2 linked regions of the Homo sapiens genome follow. The protein of the gene in region 1 purifies or fractionates together with the protein of each later gene. This does not show direct contact. Each region holds a gene or a part of one and is shown on either strand. Other genes may lie near its edges.

Region 1 (9,280 bases):
AAGACAAATTCATATGACTCACTGTCCCAACTTGTTGAGATCTCCGCTCAAATGCTCCTTACCAAGAGGCTTTCTTTTCCTAGTTATATAAAATTATTATTCCCAACCCCCCTTAACTCTCCTAAAATGCTTTTTTTTCCTATAACTCTATAATACCATATTTTCTTGATTTTTCTATAATCTGTTCCTCCTCCATTAGGTGAAGTATTTCAATGGCAAAACTTTGCCTGGCACACAGAACATACTCCGTTAATAGGGTAGTGGTTAAGTGCATGGACTGTCTGGGTTCAGATCTTGGCTCTACCATTTACCAGTCAGTGAATGCAGGCAAGTAACTTAAGTGTATCATACCAGTTTTCTCATCTGTAAACTGGGGATAATAACATTACATACTTAAGTTTATAATGCATACTGAGTTAATACTTATATGTCATTTAGAAGGGGGCCTGATCTATGGGAAGTGCAATATAAATGTCTGACCATCAGGAGTTCGAGACTAGCCTGGCCAACATGGTGAAACCCCATCTCTACTAAAAATATAAAAAAATTACCTGGGCGTGGTGGCAGGTGCCTGTAATCCCAGCTACTCAGGAGGCTGAGGCAGGAGAATTGCTGGAACCTGGGAGGCCAAGGTTGCAGTGAGCCGAGATCGCACCATTGCACTCCACCCTTGATGACAAGAGTGAAACTCCATCTAAAATAAATAAATAAATAAATAAATGTTTGACCATTTATTATTAATGCATTACAATACTTTGCTATGTAAAAATATCATCTCCACATAAAAAGGAATACAGAATACCTAATCCTGTATGCATCTAGTTACATAATGTCAAAATATATAAAAATGACAAAATTACAGTGTTAATACATAAACATAATGGAAGAGTTTACCACACCTCTATCACTAAATAAGGTTAGAAAAAGAAATCTGAACATACGTACTGTACTTGGAAATACAATTAAGTTGCATTAATGTTCATATACCCTATATCCAAATATTAGAGAATATACATTGTTTTCAAAGAAACAACATGGGTAAAACTTGACCAATTTATAGGTTTACCAGTTAGATTCTGCATCCTGCTGGAAGTTAACAGAACACCACCTCAAAAACAAACAACAGATCATGTTGGCTTCAATCAGTTAGGGGTTTCTTTTTTTAAAAATATTTATTTGTTTATTTTGAGATGGAGTCTCGCTCTGTTGCCAGGCTGGAGTGCACTGGCGCCATCTTGGCTCACTGCAACCTCTACCTCCCAGGTTCAGGCAATTCTCCTGTCTCAGTTTCCCGAGTAGCTGGGAATACAGGTGTGCACCACCACACCCAGCTAATCTTTATACTTTTAGTAGAGATAGGGTTTCACCACGTTGGCCAGGATGGTCTCAATCTGTTGACCTCATGATCCACCCACCTCAGCCTCTCAAAAGTGCTGGGATTAAAGGCGTGAGCCACCACACCCAGCCTAGGGGTTTCTTTTAGTCACATAAGAAGTATAAGAATAAGGAGTCCAGAGCAGATGCAGCCAATCGGAGGCTCCTGGAGAGCCCAAAGCATTGTGATTTTTGGCTGCACTTTGGTTTCTGTCATTGTGGTCAAAAAGAAGCTCTTCAAACTCTAGACCTTGAGGCCACTTTCCAAGAGACAGAATGGGTGAGGTGAATGGAAAATATGTGAGGAGAACAAGCCAGGAGATGTTCCACACAGTGACTTCGACTTACTTCTCATTGCCAGGGGAGTGCGAAAAAACCCGCCTGGGCTTCAGGAAAAACTATAAGATTGAGAACTTTCGATATTGTTCACAGACAACTTGAACAACATGTTTGTTTCTTTAAACGAATAAACTGAAGAGAACGGACACTGGGAAAGAAACCAACAGTATTTGGCATACCAAGATAGAGAGAAAATAATCAGTATCATAAAGCTCATGTACTCTGCCAAAAATACCACTACATTAGAAAAATGTGTTTATAAATACTAATTTCCATTATGATAAACTGAATCACTCAGAAGGTATTTGGAAATAACTTTTTGAATATGCAATGTGTGGATGTCTTTAACAAGCAAATTAATTATAATAAATACATTGCATTAAAATTATGAAATATGTTAATGTTTATTTTAGGGAACAGCTATACACAAATGTTTATATTAAAAGAAAAAAAGACTAAAAAAATTAATGAGCCAGCAGTCCAATCTACAGATGAGACACTGATAAAGGATATCCCACACTCAAAACAGTGATTATACTTTTTGTTCCCAGTGAAAATTGTGGCCACTCAGTGAAGAGTTCAGGCTGAGGCATCCTAACACTGATTACATTCCTAGGGGTTTCTCCATATAAGTTCTCTCATATACAAGAAAGAGAAGAATCACTGAAAAATTTTCCAATATTAATATACTCATAGGTTTTGCATCCAGGGAGAAGTTCCATATTTTCCCTAACACAGAGGCATCACTGAAGGCTTTCTCTTCTTCTTTATATTTCAAGTTTCTCTGTAGTGTGAATGCTCACAAGTTTCCTAACAAATGTAGAAAAACAGAAAGCTCTCCAATATTGATGATGTTCAATGGGGCATTCTCTCCAGAATTAATTCTCAAGTCCCTTAAAAACCGATAGAACATTCAAGGCTTTCCCATAGTCACTGCAGAATACCACACTATAGTTTGCTCAGTAATGTGAACACTTTTGCTGTAGGGTATTCCGCATTTCTGAGTGTTGTTCCATTGTGTGATTTCCAGTGCGTCTTAAGGGATGACTGTCACTGAAGCCTTCTGAGACCTTCACAGGTTTTCTCCCTTAGTGTGAGCTGTCACATGAATCCCTGCTGATAGCACTGAAGGCTTTCTACAGCTGTTCCATTCTTCAGGATTCTCTCAGTACATAATCTTCTGGGCCCATGAAGGTGAGAATTCGAGCTGAGAGCTTTACCATACAGATTGTCCTCAAAAGGTTTCTCTTCAGAGTGAATTAATAGGAGTTACTGAATGCTATTTCATATTGATTAGAGTAGAAGGATGATGTGCTGAGGGCTTTTCTTCATTAATTCCATGGCAAATTTCCCAGATGCTTCTGAGTTATCTGTTTCCTGGTATTCATACCTTCTGCAGTCTCTCACATTGTATCAGGATTGGTGTGTTGTGAGACCAACACAATAGGAAATAAGTGAAAGCTTAGCAGTCCTCCTGAGGATAGGTCATAAAAGCCATTTTGGCCTCTGTATTGGTCCTCTCTTGGATCACTAACCTTGGCGAGAACTTATTGCCAAATTGTCAAGGAGCTGGGCCTTGTAAAGAGGCCTACATGGTAATGACTGAAGGTCCCCTGACAACAACCAACATCAACTTTCCAGGCATGTGAATAAGTCATCTTGGAAGTGGACTGTTCATCAGTAAAGATGTTAGATGACTATAGCTTTGGCTGACATCTTGATTGTAAGTAAAGGCATGAGAGATCCTGCAGTGTAACTACAGAGATAAGCTGTTCTTGAATTCCTGATCTGTAGAAATTGTTAGAGAATAAACATTTCGTGTTTGAAGCCACAAAATTTGCGGGGATCATTTGTTATGCTGCAACAAATAACTTATATATCCAGTGTGAGCTCTCTCAAACTATCTTAGGGATGAAAGATCAATGAGTGCTTTCCTCCAGAAGTTCCTGCAGTAATTCATATCCATCTATTATGTATTCTCTTGTGCACAGAAAGATAGGAGTTACTTGTGAAGGATTTCCCACAATGATTACATTCATAGGGTTTTTCTCCAGTGTGAGTTCTTAAGTGTTTCTTCACAGCTGAGAGATTATTAAAGGCTTTTCCACAGTCACTGCACTCGTAGGGTTTCTCTCCGGTATGTATTCTCTTGTGCACAGTAAGAGAAAAGCTACTGCTGAAGGATTTCCCACACTCGTTACATTCATAGGGTTTTTCTCCAGTATGAGTTCTTACGTGCTGTGTCAGATAGGAGCTCTTCCTGAAGGTTTTCCCACAATCGTGACATTCATAAGGTTTCTCCCCTGTATGAATGCTATTGTGCCCAGTGAGAGAGGACCTTGTGCTGAAAGCTTTTCCACACTGATTACATTCATGGTGATTCTCCCCCGTGTGAATCCTCTTGTGGCTTTTGAGGTTACAACTGGTGCGGAAAACGTGAAAACACTGGTTACATTCATAGGGTTTTTCTCCAGTGTGAATTCTCAAATGCAGTCTAAGGGATGAGGGATCACTAAATGCTTTCCCACAGTGATTGCATTCATAGGGTTTCTCCCCATTATGGATTCTCTTATGAATAGTAAGGTAAGATCTGCTACTGAAGGACTTCCCACATTGACTACAGTCATAGGGTTTTTCTCCAGTATGAATTCTCTTGTGCTGAGTTAGGTTAGATTTCGTGCTGAAGACTTTAAAACACTGATTACATTCATTGAGTTTCACTCCACGATGACTTCTTTCCTGTGGATTAAGAGATGAATGATAACTATAATTTATAATATTTGAAATACTTAATGTTCTCCTAGGAATCTTCTCTCCCAGGAATTCTGTTACATTATTATAATTGATATTTTGGCTACTTTCAGTGGTTGTATGTGATTTCTGCCCAGTTTTAGCTCTAAGAAAGTTAAAAAACATAGATGCTTTGCCACAAGTCCTTATCAGATGCACAAAACATTTTCTGATAACGTGTGGATGAAGTTTTGTTCCAACAGTCAATATCTGAGCCACAGATAGGAAATATTTACTTGTGGGAACTCTCCGTGAAGAAATAAGTTTGGAGCTAACTCACACTTCTCTAAATATTTATAATTTTCACAGTGTCTCTCCAGGAACACAGCATTCTCAATTATAAATGACACTTTCCTTTAATGCCTCTCCTGGTTATTTTGTGCCCTTTCTAAACTTAAGGCATTCTCCTACTGTAGAAAACCAGAAATCACCCATGTTAGTCTTACCGTTTTTACACCTTTAGACTGTTCTTTTCTGAAAACATTCTTCTTAGGAGTTAACCATTTGGCTTTAAGTAGAGTCTCCAAATCTGAAACAAATTGAAAAGAAATTTAGGTTGATGGAGAAAAGAAATGGAAAAGTGTACACATGAGTAAAGGCAGATTCTGAGGGATCAGGGTTTTTGAGGATGTTTGCAACAAAGAGGATTTGGTTATGAAAATTTTAGGTATTAATTTTAAAAAAGGATTCTAGACAAATTGAGATTGATCACAGATTGACAAGAGGAGTGATCAGGAATGCAAAGTGGAAAGGAACTTGACTGAAATTTTCAAAAGAGTTGCATCTTTGTTTCTTCCCTGAGCCCAAAGTGAAGTATGAGATGATGACAAGGGAGTTAGAGAGAAAAGAAAGGACATGAGGAAGCTCACACCAAATGTTCTCGTGCATGTTTGTCAGGAACAGGGTATTTTACAAAGTTCCCTGATTGACATGAACTAATGTAATACTCCCAACCCCCAAGTCACTGGCCAGAGCTATTCCTCACAAGGGCTCATATCCACCTGGTGCTCACCTGGACAGGTGCTTGGTAGAATTCCTCTTTCCTCTGTCACCACCTTCTTGTCTTGTTCCAACTGGGATATCAGACTGGGTTTATTAACACGACACCCTATTTATGGAAACAATACACATGATATAGGTAACAGTGCTGGGGACAACCAAGTCCATGAAAGAAAGCCAACATTTATGAAGATGGAAAAGTGTGACTTTAGGAGCAGTGAAATAAATTATGCCTTAATTCTTTTCTTTTTTTTATTTATTTTGAGATGGAGTCTTGCTCTGTCGCCCGGGTTGAAGTGCAGTGGCATGATCTCGGCTCACTGCAACCTCTGCCTTCCAGGTTCAAGCGATTCTCCTGCCTCAGCCTCCCAAGTAGTTGGGACTACAGGTGCACACAACCACGCCCGGCTAATTTTTGTATTTTTAGTAGAGACGGGGTTTCACCATATTGGCCAGGCAGGTCTTGATCTCTTGATCTCCTGGCCTCGTGATCCACCCACCTTGGCCTCCCAAAGTGCTGGGATTACAGGCATGAGCCACCACGCCCTGCCAATTATACCTTAATTCTAGTGCATATGGTAACTCTCACTGAACAAAAATGCAACAAGCATATTCAACTAGATATTCAGGGTGATAGGGCATAAACAGCCCCAGAAGGCCATGCCTGAGTTCAAATGCACACTTCAGAGGCCCCAAAACTTTTAACCATGAAGAATATAAAGTCAGGACAAGAAATAGATCTTCAGTTCATAAGGCAGGAATTAGAGACTGCCCATGAGGGTGGGACCATATGGTCCCATTCATCACTGTACTCCCAAGTCACTGCACAGACCTAGGAACACAGAGGTGCTCAAGAAAACTTGAAAGAAGTGATGACAGTGACAGTGGTGGAGGACGGAATTCCAAACGTTCATCCCTCCACAAAAACAGTGAGTAAACTGGCAAAAGCGGTCCGAATCAACTTTATCGGAATTCTTGAAATGTATCAAAAGTCCACAGCAATCAGGAGAATGCCTTCTCAGAAAACCCAGCTGAATCTGGGTAAGAGAGCTTTATGATACTTTAAATGGACCTCTTTCCCCTGCTTTTTCTACAACCTTGAAGACAACAGCCTGCATTCCTAGTACTTGCAGGGAGCAGAACAGACCTTACTCTGTGGTTGCTCTTCCTGACCTGTCTGGTGGTTCCCTGAAGGACTGGCTCAAAGGGTTGTCTTTATTTATCTAACTCCAAATTCTTTCAGGACTGAGCTGGTTACCTGGAACACACGTGATCGACAGATGTAAAGGTAAATGTATTAGTCAGTACTGCTTGAGGCAAGAGAAAACAGTAGAAGCAAACAAAAGACTAACCGAAAAGCCTGAAAGGAAAAATGGGGAAAAAGATGTTTGGGGAGTAGGACTTTGAAAATCTTCCTCATATTCTTAAGAACCTGTAATTCCAAGCACATACTCAGGGCTGGGAGCATGCCCAGAAAATACCTGAGAAGGCACAAAACCCTCATCTTTTGGTGACCTTCAGGCTCTGCACAAGCCAGAAATGAAGGTCAAGGCACAGTTAAATGCCTACCTAAGTATTAAAGGCATGTCCCTATGTACACACAGAGCCCACGTAAAGAGACTAGAAGTTTTTTCCTTTTTTGTTCCAGGCCTTCAAATCACTATATGACCATTACGCTATCAGAAAAGAGACTTCGGTGGCCACACATGACAAATACAGACATTACAAAGTTAGTTCTGAAATAGAACTATTGTATATTCTAACAGGAGTTTACAATATATGATATTCTACAACTTTAGAACACACAATAGTTCTATTTCACAACTAACTTTAGAACTGTTGTATGTTCTATAGATACAATACCAACTACAACAAGTAAAACAAACTCTGGAGATGGGGAAAAGTCTGATTCCCAAATTGCTATATTATAATATTCCAAATACCCTAGTTTCAACAAAATAATTATGAGGGAGGCAAGGAAACAAACGTTGGGCCCATTACAAGAAAAATGAAGCTGGTAGAAATTGTCCCTTCAGAAGTTCAAACACTGGACTTAACTAGACAAGTAAAATAAGTCAACTATTTAAAATCTGCTAAAAGATGTAAAAGAAATATGTATAAAGAACTAAAGGAAACCATGAATACAAATTTTCATCAAATGAAAAACAGCAAAATAGGTACAACTATGGCATATCAAAAAAATACAAAAAATGGAAAACATTAAGAGACAGAAACTTTAGGAAGGCAAATAAAAAAATTTGAGTTGAAAAGTACAATAGCTGAAATGAAACATTCAGAACATATCTGAGCAGGCAGAAGACAAAATTGGTGACCATGAAGATAGGACAATCGATATTATCCAGTCTGAGGAGCAGAAAAAAGAGAGATGCCAGGTGCAATGGCTCATGTATAATCCCAGCATTTTGGGAGGCTGAGGCAGGAGGACTGCTTGCAACCAGGAGTTCAAGACCAGCCTGGGAAACATGGTGAGATCCTGACTCTACAAAAAATTAAAAAAATTAGCTGGGCATGGTGATGCACGTCTCTAGCCATGCCTCCCTATTTGGGAGGCTGAGGTGGGAGGATCACTTGAGCCCAGGAGGTCAAGGCTGCAGTAAGCCACAATCACTCTGCTGCACTCCGGCCTAGGTGACAGAGTGAGTGAGAACCTGTCTCAAAGATAAAGAGAGAGAGAGAGAGAGAGAGAATGTGAGTTTTAAAAAAGATGAACAGAGCCTGAGACCTTTGGGATACCATCGAACCTACCAACATATATAGGATGTGGAGAACCAGAGAGATGTAAAGAGAGAAAAGGGTGAGAAGGTTGAAGAAATAATGGCTAAAAACTTCCCAAAATTTGATGAAAGGCACAAATGTACAAATCCAAGAAGCTCAACAAACTCAAGTAGAATAAATTTGAAAAAATAGAGATTCATACTGAAACACACACACACACACACACACATTTTTTGAGCCAGGGTTTTATTCTGTCACCCACGCTGGAGTGCAGTGGTGTGATCATGGCTCACTGCAGCCTTAATCTCCTGGGGTCAAGCAATCCTTCCACCTCAGCCTTCCAAGAAGCTGGGACCATAGGTGTGCACCAGCACGTCTGACTAATTTTTTAATTTTTTGTAGAGACAGGGTCCAAGTTGCCCAGGCTGGTCTCATACTCCTGACCTCAAGGGGTCCTTCTGCCTCAGCCTCCCAAAGTGTTGGGATTATAGGCGTGAACCATTGCAGCCGGCATCAAACACATATTAATCAAACTGTTGAAAGACAAAGGCAGCATCCTAAAAACAGCAAGACGGAGATGACTTATGACGTAAACAGGATCCTCGGTAAGATTACAGTCAATTTCTCAATAGAAACCATGGAAACCACCAAGCGCTGGAGTGGTACATTCAAAGAGCTGAGAAAAAATGGCAACCAAGAATTCTATATCTGGCAAAACTCCCCTTCAAAAATAAAGAAATGAAGACCTTCCCATAAACAAAGACTGAGTGTTTGTCACTATTACATCTACCCTACAAAAAATGATCAAGGGTGACTTCAGGACAAAATGAAAAGATAATGGAGAGTAACTTGAATCCACAGAAGGAAGTGAAGAACACAGGTAAAGGTAAATACAGAGGTGAATATAAAAGTCACTGACAATGTGTTTTTGGTTTATAACTTCTCTTTTATTACTACATAATTTAAAGACAAAAGCATAAATGATTACACATCTACATTAATGGGCACACAATGCATACAGATGCAATTTGTGACAAAATTA
Region 2 (9,280 bases), on another chromosome or scaffold:
ACTTTTTTTTTTTTCTTTAAGAGAGAAAGATGAGGTCTTGCTCTGTTGCCCAGGCTGGAGTGCGGTGGTGCAATCATAACTCGCTGTACCCTTCAGCCCCTGGGTTCAAGCGATCCTTTTGCCTTAGCCTATTGAGTAGCTGGGACTATACATACCCATTACCATGCCTGGCTAATTTAAAGAAACTTTCTTTGGAGGTGGGGTCTCTCTGTGTTGCCCAGGCTGGTCTTAAACCGTGGGCCTCAGACCATCTTTCTGTCTCTGCCCCTGCCAAAGTGTTGGGATCACAGGTGTGAGCCATTGTGCCCTATCCTTATTTGAGTGCTTTTTAATTTTACTGAGAAACTGTTTTTTACTTTTAACTAGCGTATTTACTCAAATGTTTAAAATTTCATGCAAAATTAGTGATGTGGCTTGGGACTTTTTCTTGTTATTTTGCCAGATTTATAAGCAGATATTTGTGAGATTCTTATTCTTAATGATTACAGAGATGCAAATCTGTCTTCAGGGGAAAAAATCCATTGCTCAGTTGCTCAGTTATTTTGAGGAATTGGTACTTTCATGAGTACCAGTAGAGTAGTGCCATATCCTGTCCTGTGTGTTCATTATGTCTGTAGCTAACTCTGGAAGCATTTGCATTATTCTCCTAGAACCTGATGACCACCTCACAGTGGCTGAGTCACTGAAGAGGGAATTTGACAACCCGGACACTGCAGACCTGAAGTTTCTAGTTGATGGAAAGTACATTTATGCACATAAAGTCCTTCTCAAGATTCGGTAAGGAATCATTTATTTGAGAATTGAGAAAAGTAATTCGTTCAACAATTATATTCTAAGTGTCCAACTATATTAGGCACCTCAGTAATCAAGAAAAATTGTAAGGCTGTTTTTGCTCTTACAAGCATACAGTGGAGCGGGGAGAAATATACATGAAACAAGAAATAACACAGGTTGTGTGGTTCCGGGAACCAGTACCATAGGCGTTCCTTAGGCTTGAAAAGTGGCGTGGTCACCTTGGCAGCAGGGAGCAGCCAGCGCACGCTCCAAGTGTGTCCTGTGCTCTGAACACTGTATTGATACTTGGACGTCCATCAGTTACCGTTTCTGCCTGGGAATCAAGCTCAGCTCTTAATAATCACCTTCTTATAATCACTTGTGGCGTACTTTTAGATGGTTTAAGAAAGAGAAGATCAAGGCCTTTCCAGACCAAAAAGGTCTATAGTGAGGCTAGCACAGAGATTTTAAAAAATCACATTTGTGAATGTTTTTGAGCAATGAGCTGTGTGCATTTCAAATGTGCAGTTTGATGAGTGCTGACACATGTCTACGCCTGTGAAACCACTGCCCCACATCCAGACAGAGAACATTCCCATCACCCTTCAAAGACCCCTCATGTCCTAGCCCTGGGTGACCGCAGCTCCTTCTGTCACTGTAGCTGAGTTAGCATTTTCTAGAGTGTATTTAGATGGGATGATACAGGATGCATTCATTTGTGCTTGGCTTCTTTCTTTTACATGATGATTTTGAAATTCATTATGTTGTTGTGTAACAGATATTTAAATCCTACTGCAGTGAGTCACACACTCAACACAGCATTTTAGTCTCAAGTTCCTCTTTAGTAAGATCAAGCTGTGCAGCGTTTGCTCACTCTCTCTATATCACATCAACCTGCATGAAAGAAGGGGGGTGGATTTGTTTGCTGTAACACAGTACTATGGCCCGGGTGGCTTAAGCAACATAAAGTTCTGGAGGCTGGAAATCCCAGATCAAAAGTGTCACCTGGATGGGTTTCTTGTGAGGCTGTGAGTGAGAATCTGTTCCTGCCTCTTTCCTAGCTGCTGGGGATTTGCAGACAGTCTTTGGCCTTCCTTGGCATGTGGCTGCTTAACTCCAGTCAGCATGTGGCATTCTCCCTTTGTGCATGTCTGTGTCCAAATTTCCCCCCACCTTATTTTTTTTAGATGGCAGAGTCTTTCTCTATTGCCCAGGCTGGAGTGCAGTGGCCTGATCTCGGCTCACTGCAACCTCCTCCTCCCAGGTTCAAGTGATTCTCCTGCCTCAGCCTCCTGAGTAGCTGGGATTACAGGCGCACACCACCATGCCTGGCTAATTTTTGTATTTTTAGTAGAGATGGGGTTTCACCATATTGGCCAGGCTGGTCTCAAACTCCTGACCTCGTGATCCACCCGCCTCGGCCTTCCAAAGTGCTGGGATTACAGGCGTGAGCCACCGCGCCCTGTCCAAATTTCCCCTTTTTATAAAGATGCCAGTCATATTGGATTAGGGCCCACCCTAGTGACCTTCTTATAACTTGATTACCTCTTTAAAGGCTCTCTTTCCTAGTAAGGTCACATTTTGAGGTATTGGCCATTAGGACTTCAACACAGGAATTTTTAGAGGACATCATTCAACCCGTAATGGAGTGAGGAAACAGAATTACTTAGATTTTATAAAAATAAACCCACTGATTTCTCTAAATGCTGACAGTGGTTGTGGTGTGAGAGAGATGCCAGGGAGCCCAGCTCTGTCCCCATTAGCACGGCCATTGGGGCTGCTTCCCAGGCCACCCCTGGCAGCAGGTTTGTATATACAGCCTTGCTGAATAGATGATTGTTTGAAAACCCTGGCCAGCAAAGAAAGTGAGGAGCCACAGCAGGGACGTGCCAGCGTGCACCTTCGAGAGAAGAACGTGGTCCTCACAGAGGCCATCTGTCCTGGCTGGGAAGCTAGGACCTGACATACTGCTTTTTTCCTTCAGATGTGAGCATTTTCGTTCGTCATTGGAAGATAACGAGGATGATATTGTAGAAATGAGTGAATTTTCATATCCTGTTTACCGGGCCTTCCTGGAATACCTATACACAGACAGCATCAGCCTTTCTCCTGAGGAGGCAGTAGGTAATTGCCAAAGACTTCCAAAAACTTGGCAAAATGTTGAGGAACTGACAAGGTGGTTTCTATAGAACCTAAAAGAAAGTCACTGTGAGGGTAATTACAGAAGTATTTCTTTTTGTGTGTGTTGAATCCAAACACGTTTCCCTTGTTACTACTTTATTACAAAGGTTGACTGGACAGATAAGAGAGAGAAGAATCAAATCATCACCACCGTGGAGCATTGCAGGCAGCAGCATGGAGGAAGGGACAGAGACTGAGGGCCATGCAGCAGATCCCCGTGTCTCCACCAGCAGGGCCCAGGAATTCCACTTATTTCAGACTGTGGGCCTGAGTCAGTCAAGTCTGTGCCCAGTGGCTTAGGAGGCTGGGAAAATGGGCATTTCCAGAGGGCCGTAGCTTGGCTAAAAATTCTGTGGTTTCAGTAGAAAGGAAGAATGGATGTGTGTGTGTGTGTGAGAGAGAGAGAGAGAGAGAGAGAGAGTGTGTGTGTGTGTGTGTGTGTGTGTGTGTGTTGGGGTGGGGGTCGGGAGAGAGGCAACTAGCAGCTTCTGCCACAGGAGAGATGTGATCTGTGTTTAAAACATCAGTTATTATATTGGTTCAGGTGTGAGATGATGGTCTCCTGGGTTGGGGTTGTATAGCAGTGGAAGTATTGAAAAGAGATCAGATTCTAGATATATTTTAAAGAGGTTGCTGATGGGATTTGTTGATAGATGGGATGAGAGGTGTGAGTTGAGAGAGAAGGATGGCTGCACTGAGGTACTTGGCCTGGGTAGCTGCCTTAATGGCACTGAGGTGAGGAAGATAGAGAACAACAGGCTTGCTCTGGACTTTGAAAGTCAAAGGAGTTTGAGCTTCCCATTAGATACCCAAGTGATAATTTTTTTTTTTTTGAGACAGAGTTTCACTCTTGTTGCCCAGGCTGGAGTGCAATGGCACGATCTCCGCTCACCACAACCTCCGCCTCCCGGTTTCAAGCGATTCTCCTGCCTCAGCCTCTCGAGTAGCTGGGATTACAGGCATGCACCACCACGCCTGGCTAATTTTGTATTTTTAGTAGAAACGAGGTTTCTCCGTGTTGGTCAGGCTGGTCTTGAACTCCCGACCTCAGGTGATCCGCCCATCTTGGCCTCCCAAAGTGCTGGGATTACAGGCGTGAGCCACTGCGCCCGGCCGCGAGTGGCAGTTTTTTATCGGCCCACCACTAACATTTGTGGGGCTGTAGCCAAGACTCCAAATGGAGACCTATGTTCCATATGTCTAAAAACTTAAAGTTATATGTCAAGCTAGTGAACTTCAGATAAAAATATGTCCAATCCTCCCACCTTGAAAAATGTAATTTCATTAAGAACTGAAAGGACAGGTTTCAATTTTAGTTGACATTTAGAGTTGCAGGACTTCTTGTGCCAGAACCCAATGGCACAGGCAGGACAGACCCCTCCTCCAGCAGAAGGGTGTGTGGGCACCCTAGCTTGCATTCCAAGCTCTATCCACCCCCAACCCAGGTTACCCTTTTGGGCCAGGGGGTCTGCACATTGGTGGTGGGGTCTAAGGGAGGAAATACCCACACATGTGGCCTCAAGGCCAATTATGCAGGCAGTCCCAGGTTCCCAGGTACCCAAAGTGTGGTCTAGAAGTGGGCATGTGGCTCCTTAGCCACCCTGTGCTGAAGGTGTGCGTGGAGGAGGCGCAGAGCTGGGGCTTGGGGCAGAGTCCTCTCTTAGGGCAGTGCAGCTTGCATGTGTGTCTGAAGCTTGGGGCCAAAAACAATGAAGCCATTCACAACTCAAGATTTCAGTGTCCTCCAGTGGGCTATCTGTCTTTCCTCTATAACTTTGATAATATTTGTTATTAAAAAAGCAAGTTTCCAACCAAAGTCTACCACATGTATAAGATTTATTAGCAGATAGACACAAAAACAATTAATATGGTAAAATTGATGAAATCCCTGCTCTTTATACTTCGTACACTCTATTAAGTACCTTGCATGAAAAGTTAGCTTGAGGTGGACATGACAGTGTTCTAGTAGCCGGATTCAGCTAGCCTTTTGATCCTGGCTACCACTCATTTCAGCAATGACAAACTAATTCTGACATTCTTTATGCTAATTACAAATCCTGTAATGAAGATTCAGAAAAACAAATAGGATCTTTCAGATGCTGATTGACTGCTTCAATTAGAGTACTTCCTATCATTCCTTGGGGTAGATTAAAATTAATTTACATATGTCACCTCACCCAGTCTACGTTGAATTACTTGAAAATAGGTGACAGGTAATATAACAGGACTCACCTGCATATATAGATGATATTTAAAACCCTGGGGCTGGGGTTTTGGGAAGTAAGTGAGGAAAGTGTCTGAGGATTTAACCCTGGGGCACTCAAACATTTGGAAGTCAGGAAAAATGATCCAGCCTAGAGAACTGAGGAGCAACTAATTAAAGAGAAGAAAAATGCAAGCAAGTGACAAAGTGTCCTAAGGAGAGCATTATCAACCATATCAAATTCTGTGTAAATGTCGAGTAAGAGGAAACCAGAGAATATTGCACCCTCAAAGCCACTGTGACTGCCACAGGTGTGACCACCAAGGGTGTGACTGCAGTAGTGGTGGGGATGGGGTTCTGCTTGTAATGGCTTGAGGTCAGAATGGGAGGTGGGAAAATGGAGACAGCAGATACAGATAGCTCTGTCTAGGAGTTTTGCTGTAGAGAGGAGCAGTGGGATAGGGTAACAGGAGGAAGACACGTGTCCATGAAAGGGTCTCCCCTCCCCTCCTCTCCCCTCTCCTCCTCTCCCCTCCCCTCCTCTCCCCTCCCCTCCTCTCCCCTCCCCTCTTCTCTTCTCCCCTCCCTTCCCCTCCCCTCCCTCTCCTGTCCTCTCTTCTTTTCTTCTCTTTTGTTTTCTTTTCTTCTTTTCTTTTCTTTCTTTTCACGGCGGGCACTCTTACAGCATGTGTGTGTGCTCCTGGGAGTGGCCCAGGAGAAGCTGACATTGAGATTGCAGGGGAAGGGGTCATTCAAGGCGCACATGCTTTTTTCCTAGGAAAAAAATATTAAAGCTATTTTCCCTGTGCTCCTGTTTTTCAACAGCTAATGATTTGTGTATCATGTTTGCTCAGCTTGGCTGCCATCCTGGGTAGAGCCCCACACTGAAGTGTAAGTGTCAGTCAGCATCAGTCTATGCAGTGCTTCACTGAGGATTATATCTAAAATAGTGTCAAAATCATCTCTGAGTGGCTGAGTGAGCAACTGTAAATCAGGATGCTTGAAATCACTCCCCCTAATAAACACCTCTTTCCGCCAGGACTGCTAGACTTGGCTACATTTTATAGAGAAAATCGTTTGAAAAAGCTCTGCCAACAAACTATCAAGCAAGGCATCTGCGAGGAGAATGCCATCGCTCTGCTCTCGGCTGCGGTGAAGTATGATGCACAGGTAAGGAAAGCTTGCTTCCAGCTGCCGGCCTCCTGGAGAAATGGAACCCAGGTGTCTGCCTCGTACCTTAAACTAAAAGAAAGTCTGGGTAGAGGAAATATTTAATATTTTTTAAAAAATGAAGTAACAAGAGTACTAGACAACGTATAAGCAAGTATTTATATAATGTTGGGATGGACATCAAAGGCAGAAGCCATAAAGGATTTATAGCTCTGATTTAAAAAGATAAGAAACTTTTATCCACTTAAAAATACCATAGAGAAACTTACAAAGTAATGAGACACTGGGAAAAATACTTGCAACATATAATGAAGTCTGTTTACCAGAGTGAAAAACAAAAAGACAATAGGAACAGTTTGGTTGAAAGAAATGGACCAAAGAACAAATGGCTCTATAAATAGACAAAAAACATAAATGAAAACAAGGTATAACTTTTCACCTGTCAAAGCAGGAATATATTTTTAGAGATAATGTATAGGATCAGAATAATGGTGTTCTCCTAAACTGCTGATGAGAGTACAAATTGGTATGGAGAACAATTTGGTATAATATGTATTAAGCACCTTAAATTAAAGACATAATTCTTCAAGGAATTCACTCACAAGTATTTATCTTGAGGAATTAATCATGGATTTGCACAAAGACTTAGCTTCAAAGGTGTTTACTTCAGCAGTTTATAATTTTGAAAAATCAGAAAAAGGTTAGTGTGAATAGTGGAGGCTTGTTTATAAAATGTTAATATCAAGAAATTATGCAGCTATTCAAGATATATCACTAAGTGAAAAACTTATCCTATTTTTATTTTTTGAAAAAGTATAAATAGCTGAATAAAAAACTAAAATTCATTATCTACATAGAAAAAAAGACTGAAAACTATGCTTAGTGGTTATCATTGAATGGTGGGATTGTGGGTGATTTTTATTTTCTTCTCTTTGCTTATTTTTTTTTAACTTTTACAGTGACCATGTATTGTTATGATAATAAAGAAAGGAAAGAAAACCAATCTTAGAACCAAATCTTTAGGAAACAGGCTGTAACATCTTCGAGTCAGTTTCCTTTTGGTATAAGGATATCCTCTCCTTTGGTCAAAGAAAACAGAGACATTTTAGTAGATGAAAGGTTATAACTTTTTTTCTGTTTACATAAATAATACTATGCTTATTAAAGAAAATTTGTAAAAGACAAAAAGTGAGGAAGGTAATGACTCATCAACCAGAGAACATTAGCACTTTCATATAACAGCTTCTGAGTTTTTGTTTTATGTCACATTATATATTTGTAAATACTTGAAACCTAGATTTTTTTTCACTTAACATTAAAAAAAAAGTACTACCTCAAAACAATGACATTTAACAGCACAGTGAATGTTTTATATCAAGGCAATAACATATTGGGCACTTACAACACAGAATGTTTCATGGTCAGACAAAATCCATGCACTTTTCCTAGTCCATTCTTGAGCATCACAGTGATGAGCCACGGTGATGGAGGGCCATCTCAGATGTCAAGATGGTGGCACGTGGTGTTTGCATCTGAATCAGGCTTCATTTTTAATACTTTTTTATATTCTCTATTTATGTGAATTATTTGTCTGGCTACCTTCCAGCTCTCTGTTTTCTAGAAAGTAAGCTCTTTGAGGCATGGCAGGGACTTTGTTTTGCTCACAACCATATCCCCAGCGCCTAGGACGGTGTCTGACACAGAGTAGGTACCTACTAAATACCCCTTTCATGGATGTTCAGTTTTGCCTATAGAGATGCACTGTTGTACTACAGCCTGTCCAGCTAATTGCTGTACCCTAAATTAGTATAATAGACTATAAGTAAAATAGACTGTATATGTACTTAATGTAAAATACAAGCTTTCGTAAATAAAGAACAGTGCTGTATTTGATTTGCCTGGCTCAAATAAGCAAGAAATGGGCTCTTTCAGCAAATTATTATCCCTCATGCTGGACTGTCACTTAGTACATAATTAATATGAGCCAGGGATTATTCTAAGCACAGTTCATGTTTCATTTACTCCTCAAAACAACCTTATATGACATAGGCATTATTATATTAGATCCAGTTTATAAATGAGAAAACTGAAGCTTGGAAAGATTAAGTAATCTGAGTAAACTAGTAAACTGCAAAACTGGGATACAGTCCAAGATTGGGCACATTTTAAAACCGCATGTTTAACTACAATTCTCCATTGTCCTCAGTATTTTGAAATCAGGAGTATTTATGCATGGATTCAACAAATATTCACTGAGTGCCTGCTACATGCCTGGCACTGCCCTACGCACTGGGGTACTGCAAATGAACAAAACAATCCAAAATCTCTGCTCTCATGGGAATTTCTGGTGAGGGGAGATAGGTGATCAATAAATGAATAGGATATATAGTATGTCAGATGGTGACAAGTGATATGGAAAGAAGTAAGACAGGGAAGACAGCCTAGGGAATGCCATCCTGAGATGAAAGTTGAAATTTTAAATAGAATGGTCAGGGAGGCAAGACATCAGTGAGCAGGTGACTCAAGCAGAGACCTGAAGGAGGTGTGGGTGGTGTGTTCTGGGAAAAGCAAGCCCGGTGTGGAGGGAGCACAGTGGGGAGGGAAGTAGCTGATGAGGCAGGGAGATGGTGCGGTGGAGGTGCACAGTGGCGTGTGTGGGAGGAGGCAGGGCCTGCAGAGTCCATAGGCAAGTTTCAGGAATCAGAGTTCCAAGGTGAGTGGCCATCAGAGGGTTTGGAGAGGAGCAGATATGATGGGCATTTGAAGTAATCCTCCTGCCTCCTGGCTGCTGTGTTGAGGAGGGAGGGAGGGAGGTAGGGAGAGAGAGAGAGGGTGAGAGAGAGAAGAGAAGAGAGAGAGAGAGAGAGAGAGAGAGTGTGTGTGTGTGTGTGTGTGTGTGTGGAGAGAGAGAGAGGGTGAGAGAGAGAAGAGTGTGTGTGTGTGTGTGTGTGT

The links.
Region 2: the proteins of ZNF558 (region 1) and RCBTB2 purify together in Homo sapiens (affinity purification with mass spectrometry; 2 studies listed by BioGRID and IntAct, with this or other methods). This does not show direct contact.

The regions. Positions count from the first base shown.
Region 1 is NC_000019.10:8,807,612-8,816,891, forward strand, and holds part of ZNF558 (zinc finger protein 558), read right to left. Parts: intron 5,612-9,280; coding exon 5,516-5,611; intron 5,033-5,515; coding exon 4,950-5,032; intron 4,453-4,949; coding exon 3,670-4,452; 3' UTR 1-3,669. UniProt on the Homo sapiens protein: May be involved in transcriptional regulation.
Region 2 is NC_000013.11:48,493,239-48,502,518, reverse strand, and holds part of RCBTB2 (RCC1 and BTB domain-containing protein 2), read left to right. Parts: intron 1-650; coding exon 651-777; intron 778-2,758; coding exon 2,759-2,898; intron 2,899-6,197; coding exon 6,198-6,328; intron 6,329-9,280.